Regions from separate parts of the Homo sapiens genome. Here region 1 is linked to region 2. The links come from fine-mapping of genetic effects on gene expression. Tissue or cell type: unexposed skin. Region 2 holds a variant in brackets; the other region holds the start of a gene. All regions are shown on one strand. Distances are between the middles of the regions.

Region 1 (8,302 bases), 280 kb after region 2:
CAGTGAGTGAAGATGATGACGGGGATGCACCTTTGGGAACCCCAGGGGTGATTTCTCTCTGTCACTGGAGACAGGAAGAAAAACCTAGGCAAAGTTAAGGAACCATAAGACCAGAAAAGTTGTGAATGTAGTCAGGTTGCCATATCCCCATAATACAGCATGGTATGACAAAGAGAAAAATGTGTGCAGGACAGTGGCCCAATTGCAAAAAGGCTAGTCAGCCTGTGGGACTCCTGCTTCTTATCCCACCCCCAACCACCAATCTGCCTTTGAAGATAAGTTCTCCCTAGGGCCACTGCCCAGTGCAAAAGAAAATGGGAAAGGAAGAAGGGAGGGAGGGAAAGAAGAAAAAAAAGAGAAAGAAAGAAAGAAAGTTCTTTCCAAAGGTCCAAAGTGTTCATGATAGATAGTGTTTTCAGAATAACTAATTTTTAAGAATTGGAGGATACTTTGGCAGTCAACTTCAGAACTGCTTCTTAATCAAATTGCCCACAACTGTGAATGTGAACTATAACAGAAGTCCAAGACTAAGAATTCAGGAATTAAGGATGAGAGACAGGTTTGGGGGCGAGTGAGCTGGGAGTGGCTCAAGGGACTAGGCGAGGAAAGATAAGTCACAAAAGATACCAGTTTCATTTAACATGGATTTAGAGCCTGATTAACAGGTTGCCAGTTCCTAGAGCACCTGTTGGTGAGTATAGGTGAGACATTCCAAAAAGTAAAGTCAATATTAGAACAGAGAAGGAAGTAATGAAATAACAAGACAGAGGCAGGATCTCCTCTGGGAAAATGGGCAAAGTTCTTTTAAAAAAAAAAAAAAAGAATGAAGAACGTTTGGTAGGAATCAGTATAAGGAGATAATCTGGGCAAGTGCCTACTCATTCTGTGGGCATCCTATGATCTCATAAACCAGCTTACTTTATTTATCGCTATTAACTCTTATCAAAGGAGGCATCAATTGTTTATCTTTTATATTAAAGGCTGATTTGGAATTAACTTTTCTAGTTATCTTTTCTAGGTACATTATGAGTGTCTCCTGAAGGAACCAGCCCATTCCTAAAGAAATGTTGCTTGGAAAACCCAACACAGGGACCAAAACCCCTGTACTCTTATACCTCTCACTGCACACACACACACACACACACACACACACACACACACGTACGTCCCAACCACATAGAGACAGTCTTTGCAAAGAAGGGTGTCTTTCTCAGTTCTTTACCCAGATTCAAATCCAGGATTTCAGCATGCAGGGAAAATGTGCTCAGACGTTTCATATCTGCCTCCAAAACTCACTCACTGCCCACCCAGCTCTCCCTCTAGCCAACTGATGGAAACACCTGAGCTTATAATAATCAGAAAAGTAAAGAGTGTCCATTTATTAGAGCCCAGGATGAGCACTTCAGGCAATCTTATTCCCCATGAATGGGGACAAGCAATTTTTCAAACTGTGACCCATGCTTGAAGGAAACCCTCTCAGAACCTGAACCTTTTGAGTACAACCATCCTCTTCTCTTCAAACCCATTCCTGGCTCTCCTCATACAATCTTGTGTCTGGCGTAATGGTCTCAGACATTATTCTTTCCTTCAAGCTTAAAGTTCCAGAATCCAGTGCATAGAAGGAAATATTGTTTTCCAGAGGCCTAAGTAGCTTCACTGCCAAAATGTGCTTCCTAAACAAGTTTGTAAAGTGTTCGCTTGCATTTAAGAGAAGGGAAGGGAAGATGGCTTGATGCAGCAGGTAGGGAGTGGGAGAGGCAAACAATGAAATCAGGAGGCAGTGATATCAGGAATAAAAAGCTTTATTGTTACAGAGAAAATAGCTTCATAACTGAATTACAACACCTAGTTCTCCAAAGAGCTATGTCTGAGAGGGAAAGCCAGGCCAGAAAATATCACAAGCTAGACTTCAACCCTACAATGGAGTGAACATGGGCAGGATAAAGAGGGGAACTTAAGGCATTTCCGAAGTCCTTCCATGGGAAATGAGAGAAAAGAAGCCTCAGGCTGACACACATCTTCAGCACCTGGGATCTGCCAGTCCTTCTCCTCCGTGCTCCTCATGGCCCAGGTCAGCAGCAGCCTCCAGAGCTGTGGCAGCAGCCAGAGCCCCCAGAGCTGTGGCAGCAGCTGGAGCCCCCAGACTGCTGGCCACTGCCACTGCCACAGCAGCTGGAACTCTGAGGTCGGCGTCGGAGGGACTGGCGGGGCCTGTGGTGGCTCAGGCAGCAGCCACCACCCTCAGAGCTGCAGCAGCCCCCAGAGCTGGAACCACAGCAGGAAGAGACTGGAGGTGGGCATGGGGCTGAACACTGGGGAGGGCATTTTGGGGGACACTTGGGAGGACACTTAGGAGTACACTTGGGAGGGCATTTAGGGGTACATTTGGGAGGAGGCTGGCACTGCTGCTGGCTCTGCTGGCAGGACATCTCTGTAGAAGCTGAATAAAGCTGAAAGACAATACAAGCCCAAGGTCACTTCCTTGCCCTTAAAATTGAACTATAATTTCACAAGATTTTATCTCTAAGATGACCAGAATTTATTATTATGATTATTATTATTATTTGGGATGGAGTCTCACTCTGTCACTCAGGCTGGAGTGCAGTGGTGCTATCTCGGCTCACTGCAACCTCCACCTCCCGGATTCAAGTGATTCTCCTGCCTCAGACAGGTGTGCACCACCACACCCAGCTAATTTTTGTGTTTTTAGTAGAGACGGGATTTCAGCATGTTGGTCAGTCTCGAACTCCTGACCTCTTGACCCGCCCACCTCAGCCTCCCAAAGTGCTGGGATTACAGGCATGAGCCACTACTCCTGGCCTAAGATGAACCAGATTTTAAAAACCCAGTCTCCCAAGACCAGTAACAAGAATGATACAAATGATTTCCACCTAGTAACTCCATATTTTCAAATGAATAACTTGGAACTTCAGAAAGGCATCAGTCCTTCATTCCTTTTACCTACCTTCCACCCTCCCCTTCCAGAAGAACCTTCCCCTCCAAAATCCTTCTTTATCCTTGTCTTTCTTCAAGAATGGCCTCAACCTCCACCCAGGGGCTCTTTCTGCCCAAAACACCAGCACCAAGAGTTCATCCTGGTCCTGAGAAGCACTCTACCTGGTTCAGGCACTGCAGCAGATCACTCAGGAGACAGGTAGACTGAGGTGCTGTCAGAAGCTTCTGCCTTTTATACAATTCAGTCCTGACCTAGCATCAGGAGGTGCAGACCATGTGCGGGACGCTAGAAGCATCTTTCATAAAGGCATGGGTGACTCCCTCCCCTCGCATCCCAGGGACCCAGTTCCTCCCTGCATAAGCATCTCAAGTATTAACCCACAGGAAGATCCCCTGAGAACTGCAGGCCTCTAGGATGGTGAGGGAGCTCTGTGAATTGCACATGGCACCTATCTATCTCACAGGCAGCTCTGCTATGCCTTCTATTTTCTGAGCTGGGCCAATACGGCTCTACACCTCTGGAATGAACAGAAGTTCTGTTTTCTCTTTGGTATAGGAACTGAAGGAGAAAATTCCCAAGATGGAAATTAAATGGCCCTTTTTAGAATAATAATAGAGATCCAAAATAAAATTGTAGGCCCAAGCAAATAATCTAACATGATTTTTTTTTCATTTCTAGATGATGCCATAACCAGAACAAGGAAGGTTTGATATCTCAGTGATGTTATTTTAGGCAGATCTAATGCTGACAGTGTGGGTGGTTGGGCTTCTCTCCTTGCCTGAATTTGATGCTCCAAAACTGCTCACAAACAGTACCGATTCAGCACTAACAATGCCTTTAAAAGGGCAGAAGTCTAGGAATGGCTTATTTACTCGTGTTAAAGAAGGTGCCCTTGGCCAGCTCGAGGTGAGGCAGCAAAGACCAGGTGTATACTGAGGGTGGAGCAAAAGCTCTCCACTCATCTGGAGGTTTCCAGAAGTGAGGCACCAGTTCTGGTCATTCATAAGAGAAGAGCATCCAACCTGGGAAGGACCTCAGGAGAAGATTAATCTTTGGATGGAGAGGTGAAGAGGAGGAGTATATAGGTTTTAAAAGCCCATGGTGGGATCCAAAACATTTTCTCAGCAAACAATATTCTGAGGGAAAGTTGGGTCCCCAGGATAGTTATCAAAATTGACTTAGCTGGAAAGGGTGGCCAAAATATGGCATATTCACAATGAAAGCTGCAGTGAGAGAAAATAAGACTGGGAGAAAAAGGCAGTACCTTAGCTCCATGCTCTTTGAAATGGGCTGCAGTGAGAAGCATCAGCCCAGTTATAACACAGACCCTGGAGAGGGACATCCAGCATCAGTTCCCACCCTTGCTCTCTCCACCTGTGCAACCTCTGGCAAGTTACTTAACCATCACTGGAAAAGGGGGCTGAAAACATTCCTAATCCACTGAATAAAGAAATACAGATGAAGTTCTTAGCACAGTTCCTAGAACTGCAAGTTTAAAAAAGAAAAAACTAATCACTATGGCTATCCTTATTTCCATGAGAAAATATATGCTAAATTTCAAATTACTGACCTGCCAATTTTGAAACCAAAACTAATTTTTATGATATCAGAACTTAGACTCGATGTTTTCTTACAGCAAAATATTAAGAGTATTTGCTTGTCACTAGGGAATGAGATTATAAAGAAAGCATACTCATTATTTAAAAACACCAAAAAATAGGAAGAATTTTAAAATCACCTATAATCCCATCCCTAAAATATGGTTACTATTTTGCTATTTTCCTTCCCGTCATTTTTTTCTATATATAGTGGTTTTGTTGTTGTTGTTGTTATTTGAGTTTTGTTTGTATTTTACATAGTCTTTCTCATAGTACTTACATGAGTTTACTTTACTAACTTTTCACTTAACATTTTAACATCAACATTTCCCATGTTATTCGTTGTTTGGAAGCATTATTTTTGGTAGCCATAAGAACATTTCATGAAGGGCACAGAATCTATTTATAAGTGGTTGGGAGCGTGAGTTCTTTTTTTTTTTTTTTGAGACTGAGTCTTGCTCTGTCACCCAGGCTCGAGTGCAGTGGTGCGATCGATCTCTGCTCACTGCAAGCTCTGCCACCTGGATACACGCCATTCTTCTGCCTCAGCCTCCCAAGTAGCTGGGACTACAGGCACCTGCCACCACGCACGCCCGGCTAACTTTTTGTATTTTTAGTAGAGACGGGGTTTCACTGTGTTAGCCAGGATGGTCTTGATCTCCTGACCTCGTGATCCACCCACCTCGGCCTCCCAAAGTGCTGGGATTACAAGTGTGAGCCACCGTGCCCGGCTGGGAGCGTGAGTTCTAAATCCAGTCTCTGGGTTTGAATCCCAACTCCCCACTTACCAGTGGTGTGACTTTGAACAAGTGATATGAGCTTTCCACCTCACTGTCCTCGCCTGTGAAATGGTCAAAAAAGTAGTGTTTATCTCATGGGGCCATTAAATTGAGTTAACATACCTAAAACTCTTGTAAAAGTGCCCGGCATATAGTAAGCATTCAATAAATGTTTAAAATGAAAACTGATGCTGTGTCACTTCTAAATTCCAGCACTCAGGGCAGGCCTAGATAAAGACCACAGGGTTGGGGCGTCGGATCTGTCTCTGCCCTCCTTGTGGAGAAGTATAAGCAAGAAGGTAGAACACAGGCTCTGAATTTCTGGAAAGGGAATCCCAGTAAAATTAAAGGAATTACCCATTTAAAACATGGGTTTGGTGAATTCTAAAAGGAACAATGTCCATCCCCTTTTAGTTATAATTGTTTGGGCACACGACCCACCTATCTGACCACATGGTAAGGTCTTTAGTGCAGGAATCCCTAAGGGGTCTAATTTAGTGCCTTGTAGGCAGCAGGTGCTCAGTTTTCATTTCCTTGTTCAGTTGAATTTACTATTCAGCAAGCAAGATGAATGCCTCAAACAAATCCAAACCCAGATTTTCATTAACAAATTCTAGACATTTCATGGGATGATAGAATAGTTGTGGAAAGGACCTTGGCCATCATTCAGAGCCGGTGGTTCTCAACCCCGGTGAGATCTAGGCTTTGACATTCTCCAGACGTCCATCAAGTGGCTCTGCTGCACCACTGGGATTGATAATTGCTGATTTAGATCATGCCCCTTGTTTGACAGAAAAGGAACCTGAGACTTAGAGATGGAAAAAGGCTTTCCCTGGATCACATGGAGAGTTGGGAGCAGAGATGGAATTCAAAACCTGCTATCTGCCCTCTCTCCATCATAGCACTCTGCCTCTTGAATAGTATTTTATTTCTTACTGTGATTTTTTCCAGCAAGATTTATTTTATATAATTTGCTTGTTAAACATGGCTATTGAATTTGGAGTGAAAATAGTAATAAATATGGGGAATCACAGCCTGAATTGCACATATGAAAAAATTGGAAGTGATCATTACCTCTACTAAATAACCAGGGATTGATTACCTGTGTTGGACAGGCAGTGTCTGGCATTGCCAGGGATAGGCCAGCTGGCAGACCCCCAAGAACCCTCCCCAGGATGGCACTATCTGGATGACTGTTCCCTAGCCCAGAAGTCCAACTCTTAGCCTTAGCATGGCTAAGTTCCTTAGTCCATGTCCCTGAGCTGATTAATCCTGTGGAGACTGATTCACTGCACCTAACTCACAAGAGACTGTGATGACATCAACTTACAAAGAGAAACCTGAGTGTCAATGTTGGCAGGTACATTGTCTTCCTGTAGGAAAACTCCTGAAAGAAGTCATCATAATCTGCCAGCACTCAGTGAGCATGAGGTTGCATAACAACCTCAGGTTTTGATGGTGAGCAAAACTAGACATGCCCCTTAGGTCATCTGAACACCGCCAGCCCTGGACAGATTTGGGAGCCCTGAAAACATTTGTCCCTGACCTCCCTTTGCTTCTCTGTGCTGGACTGTGGCCTGGGAACTGCCTCCATGAGGGCCTTTGCACAGTGTTGCTCTCACCCACTGCAGGCTGATTCTGGAGTTTAACACTGGAAAGGGAATTTTTCTATTTGTCTTATTCCCACTGCTCACTGTTGCCCTGATGTAAAGTCTGAATAGTGTACAGAATAATGCCCACCCCTCCTGTGCATAGATGTCCACATTTCAATCCCCAGAACCTGTGAATATATCACCGTACACAGCAAAAGGAACTTTGAAGATGTGATTAAGTCAGGGATCTTGAAATAGGGAGATTTTCCTGGATTATGCAGGTGGACTCACTGTAACCACAAAGGTCCTTACAAGAGGGAGGCAAAAGGGTCAACGTCAGAGAGGGGAGATTTATCAGCAGAAGCAGAGGCTGGAGTGAGGCATTTTGAAAATGTAAGAAGGTGACAGAAGCCAAGGAATATAAGCAGCTTCTAGCAGCTGGGAAAGGTAAGAAAATAGATTTTTCCCTAGAGCCTCCAGAAGGAATACAGCCCTGTCAACAGCCTGATATTAGCCTAGTGACACCTATGCCAGTCTGACCTGCAGAACTATAAGATAATACCTGTGTGTTGTTTTCAGCAACTAAATTTGCAGTAATTTGTTACAGCAGCAATCAAAACCAATCAAGAGGATCCTCAATGCCTCTGAGGCTAATAGAATGTCGTCAGGCCAAGGGAAGCTCAGTGAAGAGGTGACAGAGAAAACTCTTACAGATAGATAAAGTGCTGTCTGGGTTGTCCCAGCTCTGCCCCTTGCTAGCTATGTGACCCCTTGGACCTGTTTCCTCAGCCATAAAATGAGGATAATAACAGTGCTTATGGCCATGCTTGTTGTATGAGGACTCCATGAGATAATGCCTGCAAAGCCCTTCATCCTAGACTTGGCACATAAGAAGCGCTCAGTAATTTTTAGCCCTTCTTATTCTGGTCATTATTAGTCTTGTCCTCACCATCATCAGTGAAAACAGAGATGTCATGATGGTTGCCAGTGCATTCCTGGGTCCCTCCACTGGACTTAAAGCTCCCAGCTACTTATTTCCTGGACTGGAGCTTGAAGAATTCCATAGAGTAGGATGGACAACTTGCCACCACTTTGGGCTTATTTGAATTTTCAAGATACTACTTGCACCTCTTCTCAGGAAGACGAGAGCTTCTTATTCTTTAACCTCTGGAGAGCATTTTACCATTTATGAGGTGTTTGTGCATTCCTTCCTTTACTGGAATCTTTTCAACAACCCAATTTTGTAGAAGAGAGGGTTACTACCCCTATTATTCAAAGGTAAAATCAATGCTCAAAGAGGCCAAGAAATTTGTCTAAGGTCACACAGATGTTAAGAGAAGTTACCAGGGTTCAAATCCAGCTCTTTGGACTCTATAT
Region 2 (8,240 bases):
TGGATTATATTCTGTACTTTGATTATGCTTCTCCCTGCAGTGCATGCCGTGGCCTCTACCCTTCCAGGACAGTGTGGCTCAATCCCACTTTTTTATTTATCCTTCATGTGGCATATCACTCTAATGAGATAACAGTAAATGCTTTGATGGCCTGCCTTGGGTGTTTCATACTTCTTACCTCCGTTTTTCAACACAGAGCTATGTGCACAATGGATATTTAATGACTTTTAAATGCTCTCATTGGTATTAGCATTGATTTACAGTTTATAAACAGCTATTCCTTATGACTCAGGCCACCCTCATAGGAGACACACTCTGAGACAGGCTCAGTGAGGTGTGTGGGCCACATCACCCTGAGAGGTCTGACACCATCCCTCCTGGGTATGACATTTGTTCTCCTGCTCAGATTGTTCCAAAGGGCTTAGTAATGGGGGAGTGGTCAGGACATTGGTTCCCAGGTCGTCACAATGGCAGGTCTACTCAGAAGTTCAACTCCTGGTATCTAGGATGATAGGGCTGGGATACCATCTGGTCCATGCCTCTGTCTTCATGCAGGGCAACACCCAAGCTCTCAACTGACATAACTCAGATGTAGGTGTTGAGTCAGCAACATAGTTGTATTAGGAAGATTGGAACTTGAATCTTGGCTATGAGATATCATGGCTTAGCTATTAGGTCAAATAAGATATCTTGTCCAGCAAAGCACTGACTTTCTGAAATTTCCTATTTGTCAAGGTTTTTCTCTTTTAGGTAGTCAAAAATTCACCGTCTCATGGGATGTGAGTGAATACTATTGCGATCTAACCAGAAATAATTCAAATGGAATAATTTTTTGTATGTGTTCTATAACCAGTAACAAGTTAAGTTAGTAATCTTTGTTTTGTTCTTTCCATATCTACAACCCTTTAAACAATTACAGTGATGAGAAAATACTATTAAAGTCTAGAAGAAAATTCTATTCTATTTAAATAGTATATTTTAAAAATATTTTTATTGCTGTTGTTGTTATGATTGTTAATATATTGATATACTGCAACTGTGTTGAACTCTCCTAAATTTTTGCAGTGAATACTTTCCTAAAAAAATTGGTAAAATACATAATCCAAAATTTACTGTCTTAATCATTTTTTTAGTGCACAGTTTAGTAATGTTAAATAGCATCACATCGTTGTGTAGCCAATCTCTAGAATTTTTGTCTTCTTGCAACACTGAAACTCTACGCTCATTAAACAACAGTTCTCTCTTACTCCCTCTCCCCAGCCCCTGGCAATCACCATTTTACTTTCTTTTTCTATGAAATGGACTACACCCCATATCTCACATAAGTGGAATCATACAGTGTTTGTCTTTTTGTGACTGGCTTATTTGATTTAGCATATCTTTAGGATTCATTCATATTGTAGCATGTGCATAAATTTCTTACCTTTTTAAGGCCATATAATATCACATTGTATGTGTATGCCTCCTTTTGCTTCTATAATCATCCAGCAGTGAATGCTTGGATTGCTTCCACCTTTTAGCTATTGTGAATAATAAAGCTATGAACGTGGGTGTACAAGTACCCTGTCAAGACTCTACTTTCAATCTTTTTGTATTGTATATACCCACAAGTGGAATTGCTGGACCCTATGTTAATTCTATTAACTTTTTGAGGAATCACCATGCTCTTTTTCATAGTAATTATACCATTTTATATGCTCACCAACAGTGCACAAGGGTTCTAATTCCTCCACATCCTCACCAACACTTGTTATTTTCTGTTTTGTTTTGCTTTATTTTTTATAGTAGTCATTCTCTCGGGTTTGAAGTGATATCTTACTGTGGGTTTTACTTTAAATAATTTAATCTAATTATGAATGGTGTTGAGCATACTTTCATGTGTCTTTTGGCTATTTGTAAATTTCTTTTGGATAAGTGTCTATTCAAGTTTTTTTTTCCATTTTTAATAAGGTTGTTTGTTTACTTGTTGTTTAATTGTGGGGGTTCTTTACATATTTTGTATAGCAACCCACTACCAGATACACGATTTGCTAATATTTGCTCCCATAACAAAGATTTCCTTTTCATGGTATTGACTTTGTTCACTGATTCACATACATTTCTAATGTTTATGTAGTCTAATTTATCTATTTTTACATTTGTTGCCTGTGCTTTTGGTATCATAGTTAAGAAATCATTGTCAAATCCAATGTCATGAAGATTTCCTCCTATGTTTCCTTTTAGAAATTTTGTAGTTTATTTATTTATTTATTTATTTTGAGATGGAGTCTTGCTCTGTCGTGCAGGCTGGAGTGCAGTTGCATGATCTTGGCTCACTGCAACCTCCACCTCCCGGGTTCAAGCGATTCTCCTGCCTCAGCCTCCCAAGTAGCTGGGACTACAGGTATGCACCACCATACACAGCTAATTTTTGTATTTTTAGTAGAGATGGGGTTTCACCATGTTGGCCAGCCTGGTCTCTATCTCTTGACCTTGTGATCTGCCTGCCTTGGCTTCCCAAAGTGCTGGGATTACAGGGGTTAGCCACCACGCCCAGCCTGTAGTTTTAACTCTATGTTTATGTCTTTGATCCTTAATGAGTTAATTTTTGTGTATGGTGTAACCTGAGGGTCCAGCTTCATGCTTTTGCATGTGCATATCTAAATTTCCCAACACCACCTGTTGAAAAGATTGTCCTTTCTCCATTGAGTGGTATTGGCACCCTTATCAAGAATCATTTTAATCAGCTAGGCATGATAGTTTGTGCCTATAGCTCCAGCTACTCGGGAGGCTGAGACAGGAGGATTGCTTGAGTCCAGGAGTTTGAGTCCTGCCTGGGCAACATAGCAAGATCCTGTTTTTGGACAAAAAAAGAATAATTTGACCATATATATGAAGGTTTATTTATTTTAAGTTTCTCTGCTACTCTTCTATTCTATTTCATTGACCTATATGTCTATCTTTATGCCAATAACACATTATTTTCATTATGGTTGCTTTGTTGTAATAAATTGTGTTAATTTACTTTTATTTTTTTTTAGAGACAAGGTCTCACTATGTTGCTCAGGCTTGTCTAGAACTCCTGGGATCAAGGGATCCTCTATCCTCTGCCTCCTGAGTGGCCGAGACTACAGGTATGCACCACTATGTCTGTCTGTGATAAGTTTTAAAGTCAGGAAGTATGTGACTCTAACTATATTTTTCTTCTTCAGCATTGGTTTGGCTATTTGAGGAATAATTCACAATTAGTCAAGGTGTATAATCCTTTTGATATGCTGTTGAGGATTTTTATCATCCCTCAATATCATCAGAGATATTGTTATGTAGTTTTCTGGCTTTGGCATCAGGATAATGCTGGCCTCAGAGAACGAATTCATAAATGTCCTCATTTCTTCAATTTTTTGGAAGCATTGAGTAAGATTTGTGTTGATTTCTCTTCAAATGTTTGGTAGAATTAATGAGTGAAGCTGTCTGGTCCTGCACTTTATTCTGTTGGCAGAGTTTTGATCTTTGCTAGTTATAGGTCTTTTCAGATTTGTTTCTAGGGATCTATCCATTTCATCTAGGTTATCCAATTTAGCATACAATTGTTCATGGTATTCTCCTATAATTTTTTATTTCTATAAGTTAGTTGTAATGCCTTCCCTCTCATTTTTATTTTAGTTCTTTGATTCTTCTCTTTTTTCTTCTTCAAGCTAGTGAAAAGTTTATCAGTTTTTGTGGTCTTCTCAAAGAACAAACTTTTGGTTTTGTTGATTTTCACTATTGATTTTTCTAGTTTTCACTTCATTTATTTCTGTCCTAATCTTTTTTTATTTCCTCATTCCTTCTACTAGCTTTGATGCAGACGGTTTTTTTTTTTGTTGTTGTTGTTTGTTTGTTTGTTTTATTTTTTTAATTTTCTTTTGGTTTCTTAAGTCTTAAGGTGTAAAACTAGGTTACTGATTTGAGATTTTTTTTCTTTTTAATGTAAGAGTTTATAGGTATAAATTCCTCTCCTAGCACTGCTTTCTTTGCATCTCATAAATTTTGGTATGCTGTGTTCTCATTTTCATTTTCTCAAGATATGTTATAACTTCCTTTGTAATTTTTACTCTGACCCATTGGTTGTATAAGAGTGTGTTGTTTAATTTCCACATATTTGTGGATTTTCCAGTTTTCCTTTTGCTACTGAATTCTAGTCTTATTCCATTGTAGTTGGAAAAAGATATTTGTCTAGTTTCAGTATTTTAACATTTATTAAGACTTGTTTTGTGGGCTTCCGTATGAGGCCTATCCGGGAGAATGTTGCATGTGTATTTGAGATAAATGTGTACTCTGCTAATCCCAGGTGGAATGTTCTGCATATGTCTTTTGGTCCAATTGATGTATAGTGTATTCCATGTCCTCTGTATACTTATTGATATTCTGTATGGTTGTTCTACCTATTACTGAAAGTGGAATATGAAGTCTCTTACTATTATTAAAGACCTCTCCATTTCTCCCTTTAACTCAGTCAATATTTGCTTCGTATATGTTGGAGCTCTGATTTGA[G/A]GCACATGTGTGTTTATAATGGTTCTATATTCTTGTTAAATTATTCCTTTTATCATTATGTAATGTCCTTATTTGTCTTTTGTAACAGTCTTTGAGTTAAAGTCTATTTTGTCTAATAAGTCTCAGGTTTTTTCGCTTTATTTTCATTTTCCTCCTCAAATTCAATAATTTCAAATAACTTGTCTTCAAATTTGCTGATTCTTTCTTCTGCCTCTTTGACTCTGCTGTTGAACTTCTCTAAATAATTTTTCTATTAAGTTATTGTATTCTTCAGCCCCAGAACTTCTTTGTGAGTTTTTGTAAAAATAATTTCTATCTGTTGATATTTTTATTTGTTAATACATAATTTTCTTAATTTTATTAGTTGTCTCTGTGTGTTCTCCTTTAATTCTTTGAGCATTTAAGACAATTGTTTTAAAGCTTCTTCAAGGAATTCAGTGGCTTGTGTTTCTTTAAAGTCAGTTTCTAGAGATATATTTTGTTTCTGTAAATAGGTCAATCCTCTGTCTCTTTACATGCCTTGTGTTTCTTTTTTGTTGAAAATTAGATGTTTGCAAAAACAGCCATGTCTCTCCATCTTTGGGAGCTGGCTCTGTGCTGTGGAAAACCTTCAGTGTAGTGTGAAGGCTCAAGAGTCCTCTCAAACCTTTTCTGGGGATGCACCTTCCCTGAGCAAGTGTTCGTGCTTGTGTTTGTGTTTGTGTGTGTGCACAGACACTTTTGTTTCAGTTCCCTGACTGCTTTTAAATGTCTACATTTTTCAGAGTCTTACTCTTGCTTCTTCTTGGAGACTTTGCCTATGATTTTCCTCTGCTGCTAATCTCTTGTCTTTAGGCACTTGCAAGTCTGCAGTCCCCTTGCAGCTGTTTCATGCCACAGTGCAGCCTCTGCTTTCAGCAGCCTTCAACCGAATATCCAGAATATGCCACTGACTCATTGGTGCTCTAAACTCAGGTGAGACAAAAACCAGTTCCTCACACAGTCCTCACACAACCCACAATCTTGCATGCAAGTTCCACTCTTTTCCTTCCATCTGTAAGAAAGGCTGAGAAATTGCGCAGCCTCCTCTGACCACACCACATTATGCGTAAGATGGGATGGGGTAGGGGTGAGCAAAAGCACCACAAAATTTCCTGCCATTTGAGTATGGTTACTTTCTTTATTAAAACTTTGCTTTGTTGCTGAAGCTTCTTACTTTGTTTTTAAAGTTTTCGGAAAGCTGTTTTTGTCTTTATATCATTGTCCAATGTCTCTGAAGTGAGCTAGAGCCTGGAGGTTCCTTATTTACCATCTTATGTCATCATCTGATGTCACTTCAGCAGTGAACACTCTTAAATATCTATTTTTTATTATTATATTTTGCCTCATTTGCCTAATACTAGAAATCCAATAAGTATTGGTAAATGAATAAATTAATCACCAAATAAATCTGTTGCATGAATTGTTATGCCAGTTAGCATTCTAAATTACAAAGAGTAAGTGATCATTTCCACATAGCTTCAACAACAATGTTTTGTAAGCTAAAATGCTCACAGAAAGCTTGTGAACCAATAATGAGTTCTCATCCCCAAAAGATGAGCTATGCTCTTTTTATTAATGAGATTAAATTGCTTTTAAAATCTAATTTCAGAAGTTATTGGTTTTCTTCATTAATTATTTGTGAATGAAATATGAATTCTGCCAAAACTTTTATAGGAACATTTATTTACTCAGTTTTTATGAACTCTATGTTTCTTACCAATATGAGTCATCTCCCTATCACATATATTATAATTTTCCCAAGTTAATTTTTTACCCTTCCTTGCTTTTAGTGGTACTATCTGATACTTAGAATTTCATTTTAATGTGGTTAACTGTATCCACATTTTCATTTATGTATTCTAGATTTTGTGTTATTTTGAAAATCTTCTCAATAAATTAACTACATTTTTGGTGTGTTATTGCAATTATAGTTATGCAGCTATAAATATTTGACAAAACTCATTTAATTTTACATTTAATTTTATTGAATTTTATTGCATGCAAATTATACAGCACTAAATGTGATTTAATTTTTTTACAATGCAGATTCATCTCATCTATGTGCATGTACATATGTGTGTGTGAATGCATGCACATACAGTATGGAGGAGGAGTCCAGGGAGATTGTTAGTGGAAGGAGTGGGGAACGAGGAACACAAGAATGAAGAGGTGATAGTGGGAAGGAGGATGAAGTCGGCCTCCTGGCCATGCCTGAGGGATGCGGTTACATAGGTGAAAGGAACCAGAATTTGAAAGAAAAATATTTCTCAATGCTATTTCAGTCCCTTGGTTTAAAAGGAAAACACCGAAAGAAGAAAAAACACAAAACACACAGAAATGCAAGCTTTTTCCTCCTGACCCCTTTCCCCATCCTCTGTCCACCAAGGCCTCAGCAGCCACCAGCAGACACAGGGGAGCAGAACAAGGATGACACAAACAGGAAAATCAAGCAGGCTGGTAGCAAGTTGGGGGGCAGATTCTGGATTTTATTTCTTCAGTTCAGGCAGCACAGAATACAGCAGCGTGAGCTGGGGAGGAAGTAGGTGTGTGCTTTGGAGTTCCCAGGGCAGCCATGGATCTGCAGAAGAAAGTCTCTAAATGCCATTAAGGAGAAAGATTTTGGGTTTCCTGACACCAGAGCAGAGGGATTCTCCAGGCAAGACTTCAAGCTTTTGCTGGAACCTCTCAGCTATTCAGGCAGAATCAGAAGGAAGAGGAAGTCAAGGTCCACTTCAGCAGCAGCCTCCAGAGTGCTGGCCGCTGCCCCCTCCACAGCAGCTGGAGCCCCCTGAGGGCTGGCTGCAGCAGTCAGAGCTCTGGGGTCTGTGACGGTGGGACCTGTGGTGCCTGTGGTGGCTCAGGCAGCAGCCACCTCCCCCAGAGCTGCAGCAGCCCCCAGAGCTGGAGCCACAGCTGCCCCCAGAGCTGGAGCCACAGCAGCCTCCGGAGCTGACACTGCAGCAGGAAGAGACTGGAGGGCACTTAGGGGGACACTTTGGAGGGCATTTGGGGGTGGGACACTTGGGAGGGCACTTGGGAGTGCACTTGGGAGGGGGCTGGCACTGCTGCTGGCTCTGCTGGCAGGACATCTCGGCAGTAGGTACTTAGGAGCTGAGGGAGAGTCAGACAGAAAATCAGACCTAGGCAGAGGCCACCTCTGCCCCTCTGACACTCTTAGCATGACTTGTAATTATGGAAACATCATGTCCAGTAGTTTCACTTCCAATACTTTCCCCAAATTCTCTCATCATCTCTTTGCAAGCTCAGGATACCCTTGTGTGTTATCTGCTACACAAAATTGTAAACTAAGACCAAACAATATTACAAAATGCATCTGACAGTCCAAAGTGTTATAAGTGAAGGAGGAAATTATTCCAAATATGTCTTCACACCCTGAAATTATATGATTTATAGGTCATTTAGGGAAAATTATTTCTTAAAGAGAAAAAGTAATCACTACCTTTTGTAACTTGCAAGGTAGTTTTACTCTGCAATATCCATACTACAAAAGATCTTGGATATTACTGGCTCAGTAAACTTACTTTGTTGAAGCAGAGACAGACAAACCCATAAATTCCTGCAGCCCTGGAATTTGAACCCTGGCCTCCTGATCTTAGGCTGGAGCTCAGATTTCCTCAGCTTACCACCTGCTCAGGCTGATGGGTGGGCATGGTGAGTCTCAGGTTTGGTGTGTCCTAATCAACCTG

Direction of the effects. Positions count from the first base shown, and alleles are read on the strand shown. Sizes are in standard deviations (SD) of each study's normalised expression.
For the expression in unexposed skin of the gene that starts at base 3,161 in region 1, A is the high allele of the variant in region 2 and G is the other (moderate effect, 0.67 SD a copy in GTEx).

What was found. PIP is the estimated chance that this variant, and not a neighbour inherited with it, causes the effect.
Region 1: it holds the start of LCE5A, and the variant in region 2 is fine-mapped to the expression of LCE5A in unexposed skin (GTEx, PIP 0.92).

What each region holds. Positions count from the first base shown.
Region 1 is chr1:152,505,662-152,513,963 of GRCh38, reverse strand. LCE5A (late cornified envelope 5A) reads right to left here and starts at 3,161. Exons shown (of 2, transcript NM_178438.5): 1 at 2,966-3,161; 2 at 1,787-2,450. The coding sequence starts at 2,429. The coding sequence ends at 2,073.
Region 2 is chr1:152,786,682-152,794,921 of GRCh38, reverse strand. LCE1E (late cornified envelope 1E) reads right to left here. Exons shown (of 2, transcript NM_178353.2): 2 at 6,496-7,644. The coding sequence starts at 7,622. The coding sequence ends at 7,266. Among named protein-coding and RNA genes, the nearest start is that of LCE1E, 4.5 kb to the right of the region's middle. The variant G/A (reference allele first, on the strand shown) is at 4,513.